3 separate regions of the Homo sapiens genome follow, and all the other regions are linked to region 3. The links come from fine-mapping of genetic effects on gene expression. A gene starts in region 3. Each other region holds a variant in brackets. All regions are shown on one strand. Distances are from middle to middle.

Region 1 (7,927 bases), 210 kb after region 3:
CTGTGATGATCACTGTTGTAGAGTGAGAGCCGAGGAAAAATAACCTGTGTTTTTCCCCCATCAGAACTCTCTTCCAGCTTTCTGTGTTGCTGTTGCCATTTATTATTTTTACTTTAAAAATTTTTAAGTTCCAGGTACATGCGCAGGATGTGCAGGTTACACAGGTAAACGTGTGCCATGGTGGTTTGCTGCACCTATCAATATTTTTACTGTTTTACACAGTTCACATTATTTTAGATGTATTCGTCTATCTATCCTTTCCAGTGCTCTTTACTCCTTCCTGCATCTCCATGCTTCCAGCTGGGATAATTTTCCTTTTACCTGAAGAACTTTCTTTATAGTACCTCTAGTGTAGATCTGCTGGTGATGAATTCTAATTTTTGTCTGTCTGAAGATGTCTATATTCTCACTTCATTTTTGAAAGATATTTTTGCTTCATACAGATTTCTAGGTTGGCAGTTATTTTCTTACAACACTTTGAAGATATCGTTCCACTGTATTTTGATTTCCATTTCTTTGCAAAGTAGACTGTCCGTCTTTACTGCCGCTCCTTTGAAGGTAATGTATCTTTTTCCTCCTTTGGCTGATTTTAAGATTTTCTTTGTTTTGGCAATTTTTCCTCTCTTTTCCCTTTATTTTTGTTTTTTGGTATTGATTCTGCTTAGAGCTACAGTGATTCTCAAATATGCAAGTCTGTATTAGTTTTGGAAGATTCTCAAGTTATTATGTCTTTTACTATTGCTTCTGACCTATTCTTTCTCCTCTCCGAGATTCCAATTATAAGTATTTTAGACTTTTAACAGTGTCCCATTTGTCTCTTACATATTTTTCTTTTTCTTTTCATTTTCCATCCTTTTGTCTCTCTGTGCTTTGGTATGGATATTGTCTTCTGATCTATCTTCTAGTTTACTAATTTTTTCTTCAGCTAAGAATACTATTAAACCCTCCTGTTTAATTCCTAATTTGAGTTGCTGCACTTTTAAAAGTTCTTTTTAATTTTTAATTGATGCATAACAGATACACATACTTTCAGGATTCATGTGATAATTTAGTACATTCATATGATTTGTAAGGATCAAATCAGTGTAATTGGGATATCCATCACCTTAAATGTCTTTATGTTAAAAAATTCAAATTCTTCTCTTCTAGCTATTTTAAAATATACAAAAGATTATTGTAAACTATTGTCACCCTATATTGCACTTTTCAATTCCAGAATTTCCATTTAACTTTTTTAATAGTGTCCAGTTCTTTCTGAAATCCTCCATTTGTCACTTAATTTACTAAACATATTTATCAACATTACCTTAAGGTCCATGTCTGATAACCCTAATATCTAGATCTCCTGTGGGTAACCTTATCGCCTGCCTCTTTTTATATGCTTAGTTTTTGACTGAATGTTAATCTTGCATGCACAAAACTGTGGAGATAGGCTGAGGCTGTGAATGTTACCTTCCTCTAGAGAGGATTTAGTTTTGCTTCTGACAAGCATTTAAGAGCAAGGGTGAATCACTTTAATCTATTTCAGCCAATTCAAAACTAAGTTTTTGTGTTTTGTGAGGGCTGGATTTCAGGAAAATTTTTAGGTTCACCATACACCTAGGGTAAAAAGTTGGGGTTTTTAGGGGGTAAGAAGGGTGGTTCCAACCAAAAGCCTGGGATGTTTACCAGGGTCTGTCATCCCTGAACTCCCGTTTTTGTGACCCCCGCCTCTGACATCTATTGAAAACTCTGCTTAGCTGCTCAACCTCAGCTTTTTGTTCAGGTTTTCAGTCCTAGCACTGAAGCTGGCAAATGCTTCTGAGGGGTCATGTGGCACCAAATGTTTATTCTGCCTCTTTAGACCTCCCTTCTCTCTAGGATCTTGGCCTCAAAGTCTTCAGTGTCCTAGTAGCTTCTAATACCTTCAAACAGTTGCTTTTTATTATTTACCTAAGCATTTTAGTTCCCGGCGGCAGGGTTGGTCTGACACTGGCTAGTCTGTCTTAGCCAGAAGCAGACACCCAAAATAATACTGAGCTTTACTATATGACCTTACAGGTAGCAAGTGAGATAATCTTATGAATTTACTTCCTTGATCTACCAATGTGGAGGAATATTAGTAGAGTTCTTTGCATTCTAAAGATAAGCCTTACTTCTACTATTCTATTGTTTTAATATGCTGTTGCATTTGTCTCAAATTCTCTTTAGAAAGAGGTTTTAGGCCGGGCGCGGTGGCTCACGCCTGTAATCCCAGTACTTCGGGAGGCTGAGGCGGGTGGATCACAAGGTCAGGAGATCGAGACCATCCTGGCTAACATGGTGAAACCCCGTGCCTACTAAAAATACAAAAAAAATTAGCTGGGCGTGGTGGCGGGCGCCTGTAGTCCCAGCTACCCAGGAGGCTGAGGCAGAAGAATGGTATGAACCTGGGAGGCAGAGCTTGCAGTGAGCCGAGATTGCGCCACTGCACTCCAGCCTGCACGACAGAGCGAGACTCTGCCTCAAAAAAAAAAAAAAAAAAAAAAGAGGTTTTAAAGAAAAAATACTGATACTGATGAATTACACTTTCTGGTAAATTATTTTAAGAGTCTCACATACACTTATGTGACAAAAATCTAAAGTTAGATATTTGCCTATCATTTTTTGTGTCTTTGGTATGTTAGCTTCATAAAATAAACTGGAAAGCTGTCCCTGTTTTTTAAGTTCTTAGGCAATTTACATAGTAAATATTAAAAGCATGAAAGGTTGAAAAGGAGAAACTTTTTGGAGATAATTCTTTTATAATTAAAATTTCTTTCTTGTTTTATTTAGGTTTTCTGAATTCTCAAAGGGATCTGGGACTACTTAAAAGATCCTATCCTAGCACATAGCTAGGGCTTAATAAATGCTGGTTCCCTTCTGAACTAAAAAGTTGTCTTTTTGTTTTGCAACATATCATAAAAAATATCTACCACTTCGGAGACAAGGAGTTCCTTTTCATAACCCAAAGCTTTAACTACTGGAGATTAGGGGTCTAGCAAAGATACTAGTGGAAATGAAAATGATACATTAATGCTCTTCATATTTTCCCCATCACTCCTATCTCATCAAACTTTGTAGAGAAAATTTATACCAGCAGAAGTCAATACAGAAATCTACTACATATGAAGATTTATTCAATTAATCAAGCTATATTTACTAAATACATATGTATAAATCAATACACACAGCTAAGTTTTATGAAAAGATAAACTAAACATGAATCCTGCCTTCAAGGAGTTTATAATCTAGTAGGAGAAAGAAAAC[G/A]TATATATAGTAATCATTATAAAAGTTAGAAAGTCTAAGTACCATAAAATAGATACCATCTGGAAACATTTATCATATAATGATTAATACAATTTGTACACAAGTAGCAACATGTTAAGCATTCTATTTTTTTCCTCTTTAACATACCTGTAAAATGAAGGGGAAACCAAGTTTTTTTTTTTTTTTTTTTTTTTTTTTTTCTGAGATGGAGTCTTGCTCTTGTCGCCTGAGCTGGAGTGCAATGGTGCAATCTTGGCTCACTGCAACCTCCACCACCTGGATTCAAGCAATTCTCCTGCCTCAGCCTCCCCAATAGCTGGGATTATAAGCACCTGCCACCACGCCCAGATAATTTTTGTATTTTTAGTAGAGATGGGGTTTCACCATATTGGTTAGGCTGATCTCTAACTCCTGACCTCAGGTGATCCACCTGCCTTGGCGTCCCAAAGTGCTGGGATTACAGGCATGAGCCACCGTATCCGGCCCCAAGTTTTATATATGAAGTGACTTAGTGACTATATATTGCTTAGGTATCTGATCTTACCAAATAAAGTTTTACCTGAATAGCTGACTTCAGCGATGAAGAATCCAACACCACATTAAGATAATACCACAGGAGACAAATTTATAAGCATTTCTGGAACCCTAACTGGGGCTACTGTGTGTGAAATACAGTAAACTGAACTGACAATCTGATCATCACAAGAACAAATCCTAATAGTCTTCACAAAGAATATGAATTCAATCTCTATCCCACATCTTTTGCTCAATTTTATATGCTAGCATTTGTAGATGTTTTCAGGGCAAAACAACCTCCCTCACCCACCTTATAAAACATACCAAAATGATTACTATAGTCATGTCTATGATAGGGTTAAATTTGACTCACTTCTTTGAAATTACAGAAACGTATACACAAATATGTAATTAAAGAGCAAATGTGTGATAGTGAGAAACAGACTACGCAGGGCTGAATATAAGGAAGATAACATGAGCCTACAATGTGAGAAACTTACATACTATCTCATTTAATTCTTACAATAATCCTGTAATAGTATATATTATTATTCATTTCTTCTAGCTGAGCAAACAAAGGCTCAGAGAAAATAAAAATTAAACCCAAAGTCACCTAGCTAATAAGTGGCATTCCTAGAAATCTAGCCCAGAGTTGACAACTCACTCTAAAGACCATGATCAGTTGAGAAAGTTTTATAACACCATGGAATGAGAAAAATAAAGACGACCTACATTTTTCATAAAGATGCATTTATTCAATTTATAGGATTCTCCTATAAGATGGTATCCTTTCCACTTCTTTGCATGAGAAAGTCCTTTACTTTATAAAGTAATGATAAAAGTATATCATGGTACTTTTTATTCAAGTCTTATGTGGCAAGAGTAAAAGATGGCAACTGTAAATTAGTTTCCACTTCTGTTGTTGAACCTTTACTCTTACATGATGTCCCAAAGCCTCATAATCACAATGCTATTTCATATTTTCAAAAGACCAGATTTTACCCAAAAAAGAAAAATGTTTGATTAAATATTTAAGAAATGATTACCTTCCTACATGAATGACAAATATTTTTAAAACTGCTATGTGTAGCTGCCTTTATAGGCAAAATTATAAGGGAGGTCTCCCCATTCCCTCCACCACCATCTTTCCACCAGTTGCCCAGTTTTAACAATTTGGCTTCTTTCTCCCTCCAGCACACTGCATCTGCCCTCCCACCAGCACATTTCAACACTCAACCTCAGTGGATATGCTCATTATCTTGACTGTGGCTGTAGTTTCACAGATATATATGTATATCAACATTTATTGAATGTTATACTTTAAATATGTGCAGTTTAATGTATATCAGAAAAAAACCTTAATACAGATGCTAAAAAAAAACCTCCTAAGGTAATAACGTATTTGATTCTTTTGATGTACATTATTATTTTCACCACCTGAAGGTATTTACACCTGTTTTCATGGCCACCAGCAAAAGATGCATGGAAGAATTTTTTTCCCCCCATACATGAGACTTAAAGAAATTTCTTTTCTCATCCTCCTCAGTATCATATTTAAGTTTTCTCAACTGAATGTTTCTTTTTTAATCTGGCTTATTTCTTTCTTTGATTACTAGAAAGATACATTTTAAAGATGTTTGTTTACAAATTTGTTTTGCAAATTGTTTTTTCCCTTGCTCATTTACCTATGGCAAAAGGCATGGAATTAGTTTTCTGCAAAACCTGGGTTTGAACCCAGGACTACCTGATCTTGGGCAAGTCACACTGCCTCTTTAGGTCTCTGTTTTCTCCTCGGTGAACTCTACAGAACTGTGAATTTTGAACAGACTCAATGAGTTAAGATTTGTTCTTGGAAACATAGCAGAGAAACAAGACATAATACCTGTTAATAGCACTGTTGTTGCTAATCTATTATCACCCTGACTACACATAACATTGAATAACAATGGTAATATAAACCCAAAACGAAATGAACCAAAAACATACACAAGTAGGGTGCAGTGGCACGTGCCTGCAGTCCCAGCTACTCTTGAGGTTAAGGTGGGAGGATCTCTCAAGCCCAGGAGTTCAAGGGCAGCCTGGGCAACACAGCAAGACTCCATCTCTCCCTCTTACTTTTTTTTTGGGGCGGGGCGGGGGTGGTAATGAAAGAGGGGACATGACTGCTGATTTTACAGGAATTGAGGTAGGTACCATAAACAACTTTATGCCAACAAAAGATGATTTAGATGAAAGTACAAATTCCTAGGAATAGACAAATTAACAAAATCAATGCAGGAAAAATGGAAAATTTGAATGGACACATAGCAAGAAATCTCATCTGTTTATCAGCTATTTGTATATCTTTTTTGGTGACATGTGTATTGAAATCCTTCGCCCATTTTAAAATTGGGTACTTTGTCTTATTATTAAGTTACGAGAGCTCTTTATATATTCTGAATACAAGTCCCTTACTAGCTTTATGATTTGCAAATATTTTCCTTCAGCCTGTTTTAACTTTTCATGTTCTGTTTTACCTCCATTCTTTTTCTTTCTTTCTCTCTCTCTCTCTCCCCCCTCCCCCTCCCTCCCTCCCTCTCTCCAGGTCTTTTTGCATTTCTGCATAAATTTTAGAATTGGCCTGTCAATTTACAAACAACAACAACAACAACAACAAAAGCCTTCTGGGATTTTGATAGAGATGCATCAAATCTACAGATCAATCTAGGTAGAGTGCCAGATTAACAATATTGTGTTTTCCCATCCATCAACACAGAATGTCTCTCCAATTATTTGGATCCTCTTTAATTTCTCTCAGCAATGTTTTTGCAGTTTCGGTGTAAACATCTTCACTTCTTTTGTAAATTTATTCCCCAGGATTTAGTTGCTTTTGATGTTATAGTGAATGAGTTTTCTTAATTTCATTTTCAGATTGTTTACTGCCAGCATCAAGAAACACAAATGATTTTCAAACACTGGTCTTGTAAGCTGTGACCTTACTAAACTTATTTACTAGTTCAAGTAACCTTTCTTGTGGATTCCTAAGGATTTTCTATACACAGGGTTATGTCATCTGTGGATAAGGACGGTTTCACCGCTTCCTTTCTAATCCAGGTGCCTTTTATTACTTTCCCTTACCTGACTACATAGGCTAGAAGCTCTAGATCAGTGCTGAATAGCATTGAACTGATATTCTTTTTTTCCCAGTTTTGGAGAGAAAGCATTCCGTCATTCACTCTTCCGTATAATATTACTGTGTTTTGTATGGTTTTTCATATATGTGCTTTTTATCAAGTTGAAGCAGCTCTCTTTTATACCTAATTTGTTGAAAGTTTTTCTCATGAAAGAATGTTAGATTTTGTCAAATGCTTTTTCTGCATTTATTGAGATGATCATGTGGTTTTGTTCTTCATCTATTAATATGGTGTATTGCCCAGGCGTAGTGGCTCACGCCTGTAATCCCAGCACTTTAGGAGTCAAGACGGGCGGATCACCTGAAGTCAGGAGTTCAAAACCAGCCTGGCCAACATAGTGAAACCCCGTCTTTACTAAAAATACAAAAATTTAGCTGGATGTGATGGCAGGCGCCTGTAATCCCAGCTACGCAGGAGGCTGAGGCAGGAGAATCGCTTGAACCTGGGAGGCGGAGGTTGTGGTGAGCCGAGATCGTGCCATTGCACTCCAGCCTGAGAGAGAGTTGCGAGACTCTGTCTCAAAAAATAAATAATTTATGATATTATTATTTATGATGTTATTGGCTCTGGCATCGTGGTAACATTGCCCTCACTGGATCAGCTGGTAAATGTACCTTCCTCTTTTAATTTCTGGAAATGTTTGTGAAGGCTTGGTATTAGTTCTATGTGTTTGACAGAATTCACCAGTGAAGACAAAATAACCTGGATTTTCTTTGTGAGAAGATTTTAAATTACTAATCCAATTTCTTGCTATATGTCCATTCAAATTTTCCATTTTTCCTGCATCAATTTTTGTTAATTTGTCTATTCCTAGGAATTTGTACTTTCATCTAAATCATCTTTTGTTGGTATAAAGTTGTTTATGGTACCTACCTCAATCGCTATAAAATCAGCAGTCATGTCCCCTCTTTCATTCTTTTTTTTTTTTTTTAAGACAGAGTCTTGCTCTGTCTTCCAGGCTGGAGTGCAGT
Region 2 (7,727 bases), 23 kb after region 3:
AAAAAGAAAAGACCACATATAAAAAAATATATATATGGCATGCAAACAGAAATGAAGTTTTCAGGGCGACAGGCAGATGGCAAAGTTTAATCCAGTTCCAGTTCAGCCCCCTCTCGCCTCCGTCCCTCTCTACCTCCATCCCAAGAAAAACCGGTACAGAGGGTCTGGTGCAGGGTAGGCTGGGGCAGGCTCTGTGTGTGTTGGAGTGGGGAGCGGAGGTTGTACAGACAGAGGTGTGGGATCACAGGCTGACTGAACCCGGAAGAATTCCAGACCCCCCTTTGCTAGTTGCAGGTGCAGATTAACAACAGCAGGTGTGCCAGGTGGGGCTCACAGTCAACCCAGGTGAGCTGGACCACGTGAGAGTTGAACCATAGGACTGGGCCACCAGGAGGTGGGGTGCCTCTCCAGGGAAGAGGGGAGCAGGTGGGGGGGAGGGGCTGGGCCTTTTCGCAGTGTGCCCCCCTCCCTCTCCCTACACCCAGAGAGATGTGACAGCACCTGAGAGGCGAGGACAGGGCCACACAGACCCCCTTATTTCTGTGACCCTCCTGAAGCCCTCACACCAACAGTGTCTGTGTTTGCTGAAGGCCACCAGCACTCCAAGAATCCCAGCTGGCAGGCTTTTTTCTTTTTTTTAAATAAATGTTTTTGTGTATATTTAAGGTAGACAACCTGATATGATGGGATTCATATAGATAATATAGATAGCACAAAGGTTCCTATAGCGAAGCAAGTTAACATATCCACCATCTCTCATAGTTACCCTTTTTTTTTTTTTTTTTTTTTTGTGGCAAGAGCAGCTAAAACACACTCATTTTGCATGAACTCCAAATACGAACAGTGCACGCTGATGGCCTGCAGTCCTCTGCCGTGCTTGGCTCTCTGGACGGTTCATTCTACATGGCTGCTGCTTTGCGTCCTCTGACCTCCCCATTCCCTATCCTGAACCCCCCAAACTCCTCTTCACTCAGACGGCGGGTGCTCCTGTAGAGCGGCAAGGCAAGGATGGGGCTCTCCAGGGGACCCTGCCAGTCCTCCATCTTCTGGTCACCACCTTGACAAAGCAGTGGAGACTCAAGTCAGGCAGGCTCACCTCCCAGCCATCCCCTCCCGAGGCGTCTGAGAGTGTTCGTTTGTTTTGAGACGGAGTTTTGCTCTTTTTGTCCAGGCTGGAGTGCAATGGCACGATCTCGGCTCACTGCAACCTCCACCTCCTGGGTTCAAGTGATTCTCCTGCCTCAGTCTCCCGAGTAGCTGGGACTACAGGTGCGCACCACCACGCCCGGCTAATTTTGTATTTTTAGTAGAGACGGGGTTTCTTCATGTTGGCCAGGCTGGTCTCGAACTCCTGACCTCAGGTGATTCGCCTGCCTCAGCCTCCCAAAGTGCTGAGATTCCAGGCATGAGCCACTGTGCCCGGCCTGCCTCTGGGAGTTTTATGGTGCCAAGCACATCAGTGCCCCAGCAGAAGAGACATGAGGCTTACTCACCCCACTAAATGAAGGCTGTACCCCATTTTACAGAAGGAAAAACTGAGGCTCGGCGAGGTGACATGGCTCACCCACGAGTCTGGCTTCTGGAAAGAACAGACTTGGTAGAAGTGAGATGGGAAAGTGCCAAGGACAGACTCCTGGTAGAGCCACGTAAGGGCCTGGGCCACGGGCAGAGGATGAGAACCAGGACACGGCAGTGTCTCCCAAACAAAGAGAGATGAGTTCACAGAGGCAGGGCTGGCCACCACCAAAGCCAGACAGGCAGAGCACACAGGCCTGTGGTGCCTGCACTCAGACACTACAAAGGCCTTGGTCACTTTACATGTTAGTAAAGCCATGGCCTTGGAGAGGGGACCCTGGGAGGCTGGGCCCCAGGCTCTTGCCACCACCTCGGAAAGACTGCCCAAGGTGGTTCTCACAGAAGGCAGGAGCTCCTGGTCCACCTTGGTCTCCTGGAGGCATCATCCCTGCAATCCCTGCTCAGACCCCATAAAGAACTTAGGAGACTGCCCTCCCAGAGGCCAGCAGACTGTGTTACAGGGCACCTGGGAGCACTGGTCAGGGTCCGATAACGCCTTGAATGTGTAAGCCTCAGTAGGCACATGGCACACAGTAGGTCCTCATAAACACCTTCGAGTCATGCGTAAGC[G/T]GTGATGGCCGCTCTTTGCCCTGGCCACAGCCCTGCCCTGCAAGCCCCACCACCTGAGCTCTGCAGCCAGGGCCCGGTTGGACCTCTCAGGCCATCAGCAGCTCTCCCTCCTCCCTGCATCGAGCACCCATTTCCTACCTGGCCCACGTGGTCCAGCCCAGCATCCTGGAGGTGATGGCCGCAGTGGAGGCAAGGCTGCCAACCAGCACGATGGTGGGTGCCCTGGGCAACCCTCCTGGGAGGGGGCGGAGGCAGCTGGGTTGGGCTTCCTTTAGGCAGGGGCCAGGGTGGGCATGGTTGCCTCCTGTGCCCTCTCTGCTCTCAGCAGTGGCCGGGTAGAGCTGTCCCACTTCCCATCGACCTGTGTCTTGGACACTAGCACCCTCCCGGCACAGAAGCGCCAGCTGCCCCTCTGGAAATCCAAGGGCCCTCTCACCTGGGGGCACCACTGTGAGGGCGCTGTGCTGGACATTGGCGTTGTTTGCAGCCTGGCACCAGAACCAGTCCGATGTCTGGCTCGGCAGGAAGGAGAAGTTGGCAGGCTGCCTGTGGCATGGTCTCTGCTGCAGGTGGACCTGCCCATCCTTCCCGATCAGGCTGTTGGTGATAGGTGGGCTGCCCGAGGACGCCTGGCAGATCATCTCCACCCTGGGGCCTGCCCCTCTGTCCTGCAGAGTGAAGTTGGCCCGCAGCTCAGACACTGGCTCTGGCAGGGTGGGAGAAGGTAGCACAGGCATGGCTGAGCGGTTTTAAACCCCTCCTCCTCAGTAAGTTCTCCTCATTACAAAATGCCTAATGAGCTTAGCTGTGGCTGCCGCCTCCTCCAGGCCGCCTTCTAGAGTTTGCCCTCCACCTTGTGTCTGGGCTGCTGCCCTACCTGCCGTGTGTACCACACAATTTCACATTTGGTTTTTATCTTATTCTTACTTTATTTTGAGACAGGGTCTTGCTCTGTCGCCCAGGCTGGAGTGCAATGGCGCGATCTAGGCTCACTGCAACCTCCGCCTCCCCAGCTCGAGCAATTCTCCCATCTCAGCCTCCCGAGTAGCTAGGACTACAGGTGTGCACCACCACATCCAGCTAATTTTTGTATTTTTTGCAGAGATGGGGTTTCACCATGTTGGCCAGGCTGGTCTCAAACTCCTGGGCTCAAGCAATCTTCTGCCTCAGCCTCCCAAAGTGCTGGGATTTTAGGCGTGAGCCACCGTGCCCGGCCTGGTTTTATTCTTGTGTAGCGTATTTCAGATTGCCAGACTTAGCAAATAAAAATACAGTTAAATTTTCATTTCAGATAAACAATGAATAATCTTTTACTATACGTATGTCCTATGTAAAATTTATCTGGCAACTCTATCATTCAGTCTCGTCTTTTTTACTGAAAGGCAAGCTACTTCAGGACAAAAACTGTCATGTAGAAGATTCTAGAATCCCCCAGGCCTTGAGCCTAATGCTCTAGACATTCTTACTGATGAGTAATCACCACCACACTTGCCACCTACTAAAAGGCTTTCATTTAATAGGTCCCCTGAAGTAGGACCTATTATTATTTTAGAGACAGGGTCTCTGTTGCCCAGGCTAGAGTGCAATGGTGTGATCACCGCTCACTGCAGCCTCCAACTCCTGGGCTCAAATGATCCTCCCACCTCAGCCACCCAAGTAGCTGGGACGACAGGCATGCACCACCATACCTGATTAATTTTTTAAAAAATTGCTATTGGCTGGGTGCAGTGGCTCACGCCTATAATCCCAGCACTTTAGGAGGCCTAGGTAGGTGGATCACTTGAGGTCAGGAGTTTGAGACCAGCCTGGCCAACATGGTGAAACCCCGTGTCTACTAAAAATACAAAAATTAGCCGGCATGGGGGCAAGGGCCTGTAGTCCCAGCTACTCGGGAGGCTGAGGCAGGAGAATCGCTTGAATCTGGGAGGCGGAGGTTGCGGTGAGCCGAGATCGTGCCACTGCAGTTCAGCCTGGGCGACAGAGCAAGACTCCATCTCAAAAAAAGAAAATAATTTTTTTGCAGACACAGAGTATCACTCTGTGGTCCAGGCTGGTCTCAAACTCTTGGCTTCAAAGGATTCTCCCACCTTGGCCTCCCAAAATGCTGGGAATACAGGTGTGAGCCACCTCACTGGCCTCTGTTATTATTTTCCTTTTGCAGATAAAGCAGTTGAAGCTCAGCGGTCCAATGAGTTGTTCAAGACCCCAGCCAGTAAGTGTAGGGATTTGAACCTTGGACCCGTTGGGCTGCAGATCCTGGGCTCATCTCCCCTAGGCTGTCTTTTCCTGGTGTTCTTAGGGTGCGGGCCAAAGGATGAATGGGGCGATTCCTTGTCCCACCCTAAGTCGGGCAACACTTCCTGGTTCCCATACCCCATAGCTCCCACCAAGAAGGTTACCTGAGTTACTATCAGGATGGAAACAGGAAGAAGGCAGGGTTTGGAGCTGGACAGAGTGGGGTTTGAAAGCAGCCTTGGCCACTTGCCAGCCATGTGGCCTGGGGCGACTTTTTTTTTTTTTTTTTTTTGAGATAGTCTTACGCTGTCACCCAGGCTGGCATGCAGCAGCACGACCTTGGCTCACTGCAACCTTCATCTCCTGGGTTCAAGTGACTCTCTTGCCTCAGCCTCCCCAGTAGCTGGGATTATAGGTGCCCACCACCACACCCAGCTAATTTTTGTATTTTTAGTAGAGATGGGGTTTCACTACGTTGGCCAGACTGGTCTCAAACTCCTGAGCTCAAGTGATCCTCCCGCCTGGGCCTCCCAAAATGCTGGGCTTATAGGCGTGAGCCACCACACCCAGCCCCTGGGGCAACTTTCTTAACTCCCCAGAGTTTTAGCTTACATAGCTATAGACCCAGAGGCTCAGACCCCACCCCTGACACTGCTGTGAAGATCAAGCGAAGTAATGCACAAAACGTGCCTAACTTTTTTTTCGTTTCTTTTTCTTTTTTTTTTTTTTGGAGACGCTCTGTTACCCAGGCTGGAGTACAGTGGCGCAATCTTGGCTCACTGCAACCTCTGCCTCCCGGGTTCAAGCGATTCTCCTGCCTCAGCCTCCTGAGTAGCTGGAACTACAGGTGCACCCCGCCACGCCCAGCTAATCTTTGTAATTTTAGTAGGAACAGGGTTTCGCCATGTTGCCCAGGCTGGTATCGAACTCCTGGGCTCAAGCGATCAGCCTGTCTCGGCCTCCCACAGTGCTGGGATTTGCGCCCAGACAAACGTGCCTAGTTTATCACCTTGAGGTCCGAGCTGACAACTGGGGCCCAGTCATTTCTGCCACCATCGGGCTCTTTCCCTCTGTGCCCTCAGGCCCCTGCCAGGAGACTGTGCCCTCAGGGCCCCAGCCAGGGACAGCAAGTCCTGATTAAAGGCCCCAAGGGACTGAGAATGGCCTTGGAGGTGGCAGCCTGTCCTTGTCCACACCCTCACACCCTGGCTCTCTCTAACCCCAGCAAGGTTCACAATCCCCACTCCCAGAGCTCCCCATTGATCTGCACCCCACCTGCCTCCTCAGCCCTGTGCCCCCCACCGCACTCACTGGACCACAGCTCCCAGTGCATCTGTAGCCTGGCACTGTCCACATGGGCACCTGAGGTGGAGGACGCCCAGCAGAAGTAGGTGAGCAGGTCTGGACTGGACTTGAGTGTGACGTTGAGGTTGAAGGAGGCCGGCTCGTGGGTCTTCACCACCTTCTTGGCCACCTTGATGTTCTTGGTTCCACAGAGGGAATAGGTGATGGGCGGTGGTGGCTGGGGTGCACAGCAGGTTATGAGCACCCAGCGGCCTTTGGGGAAAACTTCCAGGACTTTGTAGGCAATGGAGACCACAGGGGTAATTTCTGGGAGATGAAAAGGTCCAAGGAGGAAGAAAGAAACCGACATTGATCAAGCACCTTAAGAAGGTACTGGTTTGGCCAGGCTCGGTGGCAAACACCTGTAATCCCAGTGTTTGGGAGGTCCAGGTGGACGGATCACTTGAGGTCAGGAGTTCAAAACCAGTGTAGCCAACATGGTGAAAGTCTGTCTCTACTAAAATACAAAAATTAGCCGGGCGTGGTGGTGCCCACCTGTAATCCCTGCTACTCGGGAAGCTAAGGCAGGAGAATCTCTTGAACCAGGAAGGCGGAGGTGGCAGGTGGCAGTGAGCCGAGATCACACCACTGCACTCCAGCCTGGGCGACAGAGGGAGACTCAGGAAAAAAAGAAAAAGGATGCTGGGTTTAGCATGTTCTCTCTCTCTCTCTCTTTTTTTTTTTTTTAGATGGAGTCTTGCTCTGTCACCCAGGCTGGAGTGCAGTGGCGCGATCTCTGCTCACCACAACCTTCGCCTCCTGAGTTCAAGTGATTCTCCTGCTTCAGCCTCCCGAATAGCTGGGACTGCAGGCGCGTGCCACCACGCCTGGCTAATTTTTGTATTTTTAGTAGAGACAGGGTTTCACCATGTTGGTCAGGCTGGTCTCAAACTCCTGACCTCGTGATCCACCCGCCTTGGCCTCCCAAAGTGCTGGGATTACAGGCGTGAGCCACCGCGCCCGGCTGCAATTTACTTCTATAACAAACCTGCACATGTACCCCTGAACCTAAAAATTACAAATAAATAAGTGAAACCAGTAGACCTCAGAGTAAAGAAAAAAGAAAGAAAGAAAATACTGATTTAGTGGTTCCTCAAAAAGTTAAACAGACTTACCATATGACTCAACAATTCCAGGCCTAGACATACACCAAATAATAGAAAACAGGGACTCAAACAGATACCTGTACACACACGCTCATGGCAGCGTGATTCACCACAGCCAAATGGTGGAAACGGCCCAAATATCTATCAATGGACGAATGGGTAAATAGAATGTGGTTGATCCATATAAGGAATATTACTCAGCCTTAGAAAGAAATGAGCACAGATGCAGGCTGCAACAGGGATGAGCCGTAACAACATTCCACTAAACAAAAAGGCAGACGCAAAGGGCAACGGTTGCATGATTCCATGTGTGTGCAAAGTTCAGAACAGGAGAACCCACAGAGACAGAAAGCAGATTGGTGGTTACTGGGGCCCAGGGGAGGGGGAAATGGGGAGTAACTGCCTAATAGATACGGGGTTTCCTTTTGGGGTGATGAAAATCTCTCGGAACTAGATAGCGGTGGTGGTTGAGCAACACTATGGATGCACTAAATGCTGCTGAATTATCACTTTTTTTTTTTTTTGAGACAGAGTCTTGCACTGTCGCCTCCCGTGTTCAAGAGATTCTCGTGCCTCAGCCTCCAGAGTAGCTGGGATTACAGGCACCCACCACTACGCCTGGCTAATTTTTGTATTTTTAGTAGACATGGGGTTTCATCATGTTGGCCAGACTGGTCTTGAACTCGAGACCTCAGGTGGTCTGGCCACCTCAGCCTCCCAAAGTGCTGGGATTACAGATGTGAGCCACTGCGCCCGGCCCACTTTTATTTATTTATTTAAAGACAGAGTCTTGCTCTGTCGTCCAGAATGGAGTGCAGTAGCACGATCTCAGCTCACTGCAACCTCCACCTCCTGGGTTCAAGCGATTCTCCTGTCTCAGCCTACCATGTAGTGGGG
Region 3 (7,816 bases):
GTTTCAAAAAAAAAAAAACAAAACACTGGGCGTGGTGGCTCACACCTGTAATCCCAGCACTTTGGGAGGCTGAGGCGGGTGAATCACCTGAGGTCAGGAGTTCGAGACCATCCTGGCCAACATGGTGAAACTCCGTCTCTACTAAAAATACAAAAATTAGCTGGGCATGGTGGCGGGCGCCCGTAATCTCAGCTACTCGGGAGGCTGAGGCAGGAGAATCGCTGGAACTCGGGAGGTGGAGGTTGCAGCGAGCTGAGATCCCACCATTGCACTCTAGCCTGGGTGACAACAGCGAGACTCCATCTCAAAAAAAAAAAAAAAAAAAAGTAACAAGGAACCAGATTTTGAAGAAAGGGCTCAAAACCATCATGAGAAATGGGAAGTCAGGGCAGCCTCATGGCAAGGCCTGAGGTCAAATGCCATCTGACCTCCCTCACTTACTTACTGTTTTATCCTCAACAAGTTACTTAGTCTCTGAGATTCAGTTTCCTGACTGGTAGAAGGTATCTATCCAGGCCCGGCACAGTGGCTCACACCTGTAATCTCAGCACTTTGGGAGGCCGAGGCGGGTGGATCACTTGAGGCCAGGAGTTCAAGACCAGTCTGTCCAACATGGCGAAACCCCATCTCTATTAAAAATACAAAAATTGGCCAGGCGCAGTGGCTCATGCCTGTAAACCCAGCACTTTGGGAGGCCAAGGGGGGCGGATCATGAGGTCAGGAGTTGGAGACCATCCTGGCTAACACAGTGAAACCCCATCTCTACTAAAAATACAAAAAAATTAGCCGGGCATGGTTGCGGGCGCATGTAGTCCCAGCTACTCAGGAGGCTGAGGCCGGAGAATGGCGTGAACCCTGGAAGAAGAGGTTGCAGTGAGCCCAGATCGCGCCACTGCACTCCAGCCTGGGCGATAGAGCGAGACTCTGTCTCAAAAGAAAAAAAAAAAAAATTAGCCAGGCATGTAGTACCAGCTACAGTGTGCCTGTAATCCCAGCCACTCGGGAGGCTGAGGCAGGAGAATCACTTGAACCCGGGAGGTAGAGGTTGCAGTGAGCCGAGATCATGCCACTGCACTCCAGCCTGGGTGACTGAGCGAGACTGTGTCTCAAAAAAAGAAGGCATGTATCCAAATCACAAGGTTAAAAGAGATAAAGCATGCGAGTAAAATAAAGCAAGCCAGTCAGTGTGGGTTGCTTCTTCCTCCCAGTGAAGGAGCTCTTTGTCAGAGGTCCTTGGATCTGTCCAATCTGTACCTGGAAAGGTTATTACCTGTAGGATCCTTACAGCCACACCTGGCACACTCTGTGATCACTACCACCATCTTTGTTGCTATTATTTATGATCATGATTATACAATGGGTTTCTTTTCTTTCTTTCTTTTTTTTTTTGAGCCACCGCACCCGGCCTGTATGTTTCTAACCTTCACAACCCCAATGTAAATACCAGCTGTTCTGAATCCTTCAGCCTGTGCCACATAAGCACAGACCCAAAAACATTGTGTAACCTCAGATCAAGGTCCAGAACTTTGTCCCCTAACCTCCTGCGGGTCTATGGATTTTTTTTTTTTTTTTTTTTTTTTTTTTTGAGACTAAGTCTTGGTCTATCGCCCAGCCTTCCAGGCTGGAGTACAAATGGCATGATCTCGGCTCACTGCAACCTCCACCTCCTGGGTTCAAGCGATTCTCCTGTCTCAGCCTCCCCAGTAGCTGGGATTACAGAGGTACATCACCACGCCCGGCTAATTTTTGTATTTTTAGTAGAAACGGGGTTTCACCATGTTGGCCAGGCTGGTCTCGAACTCCTGACCTCGTGATCCGCCAAAAGTGCTAGGATTACAGGTGTGAGCCGCCACGCCTGGCAGGGTCTACGGATATTATTAGCATAGTCAGGACTTCAATTTTCTTTATCCTGAAAACCAGGTTAACAAAAATCCTTAGGAGAAGGTAAAATACACCATGGTGCTCAAGCACTGGGGACCTGGCACGCACTAGGCGCTCTGCATGCCCACAGGAGTGCTCTAGACGGCTTCTAAGCTTCCTTCTTGGAATTCCAATCTAATAAATGAGCTAACTCCGCCCCAGCCCCTTAGTCCCTCCCTGCAATCCACCTACCTCTGCAGACATCTTCTTCCAAGGAACCTTGCTTGGGAAACCCACACCAGACACATCCATCATGGCGTCTACAGCCGCATGGGCGTGCGTCCCTCTGTTTATATGGCCAGAGCCCCGCCTCGCTCCGCCCCTTTAAACTTGGTGGGCGGACCGAGGCGGGGCTCAGACCAGGCCCCACCCCGATCAGCCACGTCCATCGCCCTGATTTCCAGGCCCTCCCAGTCCCTGGGCGCACGTCCCGGATTCCTCCCACGAGGGGGCGGGCTGCGGCCAAATCTCCCGCCAGGTCAGCGGCCGGGCGCTGATTGGCCCCATGGCGGCGGGGCCGGCTCGTGATTGGCCAGCACGCCGTGGTTTAAAGCGGTCGGCGCGGGAACCAGGGGCTTACTGCGGGACGGCCTTGGAGAGTACTCGGGTTCGTGAACTTCCCGGAGGCGCAATGAGCTGCATTAACCTGCCCACTGTGCTGCCTGGCTCCCCCAGCAAGACCCGGGGGCAGATCCAGGTGCGGGGGCCAGCCCTGCGCGTGGCTGGGGATGAGGTGGTCGTGGTGATAGCCTGTGTCCAGGCATCCGCGCAGGGCGGGCCCTCAAATGACCTCACCTTCTCTCCTAGGTGATTCTCGGGCCGATGTTCTCAGGAAAAAGGTAATGGCTTCGCGGGGCTGGGGTGGAGCTCCTTCCTCTTCTCCGGGGACCCCTTGTCCCGTCCCTCCCCTCCCCTTCCCTCCCCTCCCCTCCCCTCCCCTTCCCTTCCCTCCCCTTCCCTTCCCCTAGAAGGACCAGCACAGCCTCCTACAGCTCCCGCCTGGGGTGCTCCTCCCTTGAATTCAGTCCAGGAGGAAGTCTCTGCCCTCTTCTGCCCAGGCCAAGCCCCTCGTCCTGTGTGGACGCCACTCCCTCCTGGAGCTGGTGACAGCTGCTTACAGCTTAGCTGTCTTCCCCACCAAGTCCTCTGAGAAGGTGGCAACCAGTTGTGTCCCCTGTAGGCCAGGCCTTTTTGTACACCCCTATTCAATGTGGCTGTTTCCTTCTAAGGCCAAGGAAACGTAGTCGCTTTCTAAACCAAGGAGTCTGAAGCCGTGGAGCCTCTGCTCTCCTGAGGTGATAGAACCATTCCCTGACCCGGGTGGGGCTAGTGAGTTTCTTGAGTAAACTACCCACGCACCATTCTTTTTGTTTTGTTTTTGTTCTTCTAGAGGTAGGATCTTGCTATGTTGCCCAGGCTGGTCTCAAACTCCTGGGCTCAAGCAATTCTCTCACCTCAGCCTCCCAAGTAGCTGGGACTACAGGCGTGCACCCCCCCGCCTCCACCCAGCTAATTTTATTTTATTTTTATAGAGCTGGGGTCTTGCTATGTTGCCCAAGCTGGTCTTGAACTCCTGGTCTCAAGCAATCCTCCTACTTCAGCATCCCAAAGTGCTGGGATTACAGATGTTAGCCACCATGCCCTGCCCCAACATTCTTTTATGGCCCTGGGGATCACTTCAGCTCAAACCCCTTGCTCAGGAAGATGTGGCTCAGAGTTGGACTTCTTGGACCCAGAAGCAAGTGCTTTTGACGCTGCACACAAAGACTTTCTGAAATTAATTTAGAAAAGCTGTATGCCAGGTGTGGTGGCCCACGCCTTTAATCCCAGCGCTTTGGAAGGCTGAGGTGCGTTGATCACTTGAGGTTAGGAGTTTGAGACCACCCTGGTCAACGTGGTAAAACCCCATCTCTACTGAAAAAAAAAACCAAAAATTATCTGGGCATGGTGGCAGCCTCCTGTAATCCCAGCTACTCGGGAGGTTGAGGCAGGAGAATCTCTTGAACCCGGAAGGCAGGGGTTGCAGTGAGCTGAGATCGCTCCACTGCACTCTAACCTAGGCAACAGAGCGAGACTCCACCCCAAAAAGAAAGAAAGAAAAACTCTGAACTCTGGGAACAACTCTGGGATGAGGTTACTTTGGAATGCAGTCGCAGGTTCCCTCTACATGTAGCCTTTGCTTCTGCCTTCCCCACTACATCTTGGAGAAGGTTACTCCTCCCACACTTCCTGGGACCACCTGAGTACCATTCCTGGACCTCTTCCCCATAGAGAATTCTGACTTCCAACCCTCTTTGTAGGGATATTATACCCTGCCTGCTCTGCCCTGCTCTTTTCTGGCTGTGGTGGGCTCAGTCTGCATACCACTAGGGACAATGAGGAGCCAGGCTTGTTGGGGAGGGGTCTCCTTCTCCCACTCCTCCCGCCGTGGACCTCACCTGACCCTCTCTCCTCTTGCAGCACAGAGTTGATGAGACGCGTCCGTCGCTTCCAGATTGCTCAGTACAAGTGCCTGGTGATCAAGTATGCCAAAGACACTCGCTACAGCAGCAGCTTCTGCACACATGACCGGTCAGTCCCTGCCCCCTGCAGTCCTGTCCAGTGGAAAATCACAAGGCACAGGACACACTGTTAGGACTCTCTTTAATGGGGATGGTTAATCATTTGAACATTGAATGATTCAAATCAGCACACTTTCCAAGGTGCTTGGCAAGGTAGCGCACACTCTCCACTCCCTGGGCTGGAGCCAGTGGTTCTCCACTGAGGGTGATTTTGCCGCCAGGGTCCATTTGACAATGTTTGAAGACATTTCTAGTTGTTGCAACTGGAGGGGGGAGGGGATGCTTTTGGGCTTTAATGTGTAGAAATCAGGGACACTGCTGCTAAGGGTCCTATGGTGCAGAGGACGGCCCCCATGCAAGAACGAGCTGGCCCCAAATGTCAGGAGCCTGCCAGTGTTCAGAAACTCTGCCGTAGGGTTTCAGCTTCACACAGGCTGCAGACTGGTTTGGTTTGGCCTGCACGTTGATTTTTGTTTAATTTTTTAGTTGTCCGTTGTTGGCTGGCTCCCCCGTCACCTGGCAGCCTTCACGCTTCCCTGTTTTATGTGTAGCTGTTTGAGCTCGCTGGACATTTCCGCCTGCAACCTCAGTTTGGGAGTTAAATTCACTTCCTTGGCAGCAGATGTGGGCCTGATGTTTCTGAGCCTGAGACGCTTTGCTTGGTCCTCTGGACTTGTCCACCTGGGCACCCAGTGGCAAAGCCATGCTGTGCCACACATTATAGGGCTTCAGCCTCAGAGCCCTGGCTGGGAGCTGTATCCGAGAGTTGCTATGGCTGTGCAGAGAACAGATCCACCCGGCGTGTGGCCTTCGGTGGGAGCTGAGGGGCTCCTGAAGCCAGATGCTGGTGGAGTGGAGGGTGCTTGGGGCTTGGAGTTGCATGTGGGAATTTAACCGCACTTCGTGACCATGCTGTCTGATGTAGGTCATTTACTTTTCCAAATTTGCTTCCTCATTCCTAAGATGCGATGTCCACGGCACAGGGTGGTGTTACACCTGGTGGGGACAGGGAAAGCAGAGGAGGTCACTTCGTTCCAGCTGTTGGAAGTACAACTTCTGGAGTCAGTCAGATCCGGGATTAAATATGAGTTCTGCCCGTGTGTCACAAGTCATCTCTAACACGGGCCACAGAGGCCAAGGCTGGGCCAGCAGCATTGATGGCTCGAGAGGCTGCCCTTGCAGGGGCCACAGCTGGCCTCCCACCTGCCCTCACTTTGTCTTTCTCTGTTTAGGGAGGGAAGAGGGAATTTAAAATGCCCAAAATACTGTTTCACACATTCTTTCCAGAACTCGAAGTAGGATTATAGCAAGGTAATAACGAAACAATAGTTGTAAAGTATGTTTTTTTGTTTGTTTGTTGTTTGTTTTTGGGACAGGGTCTCTCTCTGTCACCCAGGCTGGAGTGCAGTGGCTCAATCATAGCTTACTGTTACGTGACCCCAAACCCTTGGGCTCAAGTGATCGTCCCACCTCAGCCCCCTGAGCAGGTGGGACTACAGGCGCACACCACCACACCCAGTTAATTTTTACATTTTTTTCACACAGTGTCTCGCTGTGTTACCCAGGCTGGTCTCGAACTCCTGAGTTCAAGTGATCCTCCCGTCTTGGCCTCCCCAAAGATTACGGGCATGAGCTGCTGTGTCTGGCCAGAATACAGGATTTTAAAAATTTATGTTTTGCAACATAATTAATATAAAGACAAATATAACCCAGGCCCAGTTCTAGTTATTCATTCTTCTGAATTTTAAAAGGAAACATTTGGCTGGCCCCTAATGGTATCATGGGCCCTGGTACCTGATGAAGTTGGCCTAGTCTGCCCCCAGCTCCTGAACAGTGGAAGAGTTTTTAGTCTCATTGAGCTTTGTACTGGACATTACTAATTTCTAATCCAAAGCATCAAGTGAAGTGGCTTGTATAAATAACTGGTTTTCCTCTGGGAGGCTAAGGCGGGTGGATCACTTAAAAGTTAGGAGTCTGAGACCAGCCTGGCCAACATGGTGAAACCCCATGTCTGCTAAAAATACAAAAATTAGCTGGGTGTGATGGTGTGTGCCAGTAGTCCCAGCTACTCTTGTGGCTGAGGTGGGAGAATCGCTTGAGACCCTTGAGAATTGGGAGGTAGAGATTGCAGGGAGCCGAGATGGCGCCACTGCACTCCAGCCTGGGTGACAGAGCAAGACTCTGTTTCATAAAAAATAAATAAATAACTGGTTTTCTGGACGAGGGCCTTTCCCATAGGTGCTAACTTCTCAAAGCCCGGCTGGGTGAACACTGAGCCTGCTTTGCAGGTAGCAGGTGGTCACGACAGTGCCATTCCCTGGCCCCTGCATTGTGGCTTCTGGCCTCCCTGGCCCTGCTCACGCTCTGGCTTTCTCTTCCCAGGAACACCATGGAGGCACTGCCCGCCTGCCTGCTCCGAGACGTGGCCCAGGAGGCCCTGGGCGTGGCTGTCATAGGCATCGACGAGGGGCAGTTTGTAAGTTGGCTTGTCTTGGCATCACTCTTCCTGCCAGCTTCCGCTCTGTCCTCCCGTTTTCCCTCGCTGACTTGGAAGTTATCTGATCTTTTAGTAAAATAACAAGGTTAAATAGCTACAACTAGTGTTGGAATACCCTCTGAAGGCCCCTTTCTAGTTTCCCTGTCATAGTGTCATAGTCTTGTAGGATTCGTTTTACTTTTTTTTTTTTTTTTTTGAGACGGAGTTTTGCTCTTGTTGCCCAGGCCGGAGTACGATGGCACAATCTCACCGCAAACTTTGCTTCCTGGGTTCAAGCAATTCTCTCCTGTCTCAGCCTCCCGAGTAGCTGGGATTACAGGCATGCGCCACCACGCCCAGCTAATTTTATATTTTTAGTAGAGATGGGGTTTCTCCATGTTGGTCAAGCTGGTCTCAAACTCCCAACCTCAGGTGATCCGCCCCGCCTTGAACTCCCAAAGCGCTGGGATTACAGGCATGAGCTACCACACCTGGCCATTGTACCTTTTTAAAAATACATATATCTATTTACTGGCAAGATGCAGTGACTCACACCTGTAATCTCAGCCTGTGGGAGGCCAAGGTGGACAGATCACTTGAGCCCAGGAGTTGGAGACTCACCTGGGCAACATAGTAAAACCCCATCTCTACCAAAAAAAAAAAGAAATTAGCCAGTCATAGCAGCGCACACCTGTGGTCCCTGCTACTCAGGAGGCTGAGGCAGAAGGATGGAGCCTGGGAGGTCGAGGCTGCAGTGAGTGGTGATAGCACCACTGCACTCCAGCCCGGGCGACAAGGCCAGACCCTGTCTCAAAAAAAAAAGGGGGAGGTGGGGAGTAATGTTTGGTTTGCCTCATGG

Alleles and levels. Positions count from the first base shown, and alleles are read on the strand shown. Sizes are in standard deviations (SD) of each study's normalised expression. Not every link is listed here.
For the expression in vagina of the gene that starts at base 2,494 in region 3, A is the low allele of the variant in region 1 and G is the other (moderate effect, 0.61 SD a copy in GTEx).

Evidence for each region. PIP is the estimated chance that this variant, and not a neighbour inherited with it, causes the effect.
Region 1: its variant is fine-mapped to the expression of TK1 in vagina (GTEx, PIP above 0.99).
Region 2: its variant is fine-mapped to the expression of TK1 in whole blood (TOPMed, PIP above 0.99).

The regions. Positions count from the first base shown.
Region 1 is chr17:77,972,472-77,980,398 of GRCh38, reverse strand. The region is part of intron 1 of TNRC6C (trinucleotide repeat containing adaptor 6C); the gene reads right to left. Among named protein-coding and RNA genes, the nearest start is that of TNRC6C, 18 kb to the right of the region's middle. The variant G/A (reference allele first, on the strand shown) is at 3,268.
Region 2 is chr17:78,159,219-78,166,945 of GRCh38, reverse strand. C17orf99 (chromosome 17 open reading frame 99) reads right to left here. Exons shown (of 5, transcript NM_001163075.2): 3 at 5,692-5,991; 4 at 2,582-2,851; 5 at 649-1,057. The coding sequence ends at 900. Among named protein-coding and RNA genes, the nearest start is that of SYNGR2, 5.5 kb to the left of the region's middle. RefSeq lists enhancers at 2,385-2,885, 6,877-7,036 and silencers at 6,517-6,566, 6,607-6,656. The variant G/T (reference allele first, on the strand shown) is at 2,146.
Region 3 is chr17:78,181,730-78,189,545 of GRCh38, reverse strand. TK1 (thymidine kinase 1) reads left to right here and starts at 2,494. Exons shown (of 7, transcript NM_003258.5): 1 at 2,494-2,617; 2 at 2,728-2,759; 3 at 4,381-4,491; 4 at 6,864-6,957. The coding sequence starts at 2,552. It overlaps AFMID (arylformamidase), which reads right to left and starts at 2,184. Exons shown (of 11, transcript NM_001010982.5): 1 at 2,113-2,184. The coding sequence starts at 2,175. RefSeq lists a silencer at 2,202-2,341 and an enhancer at 4,380-5,281.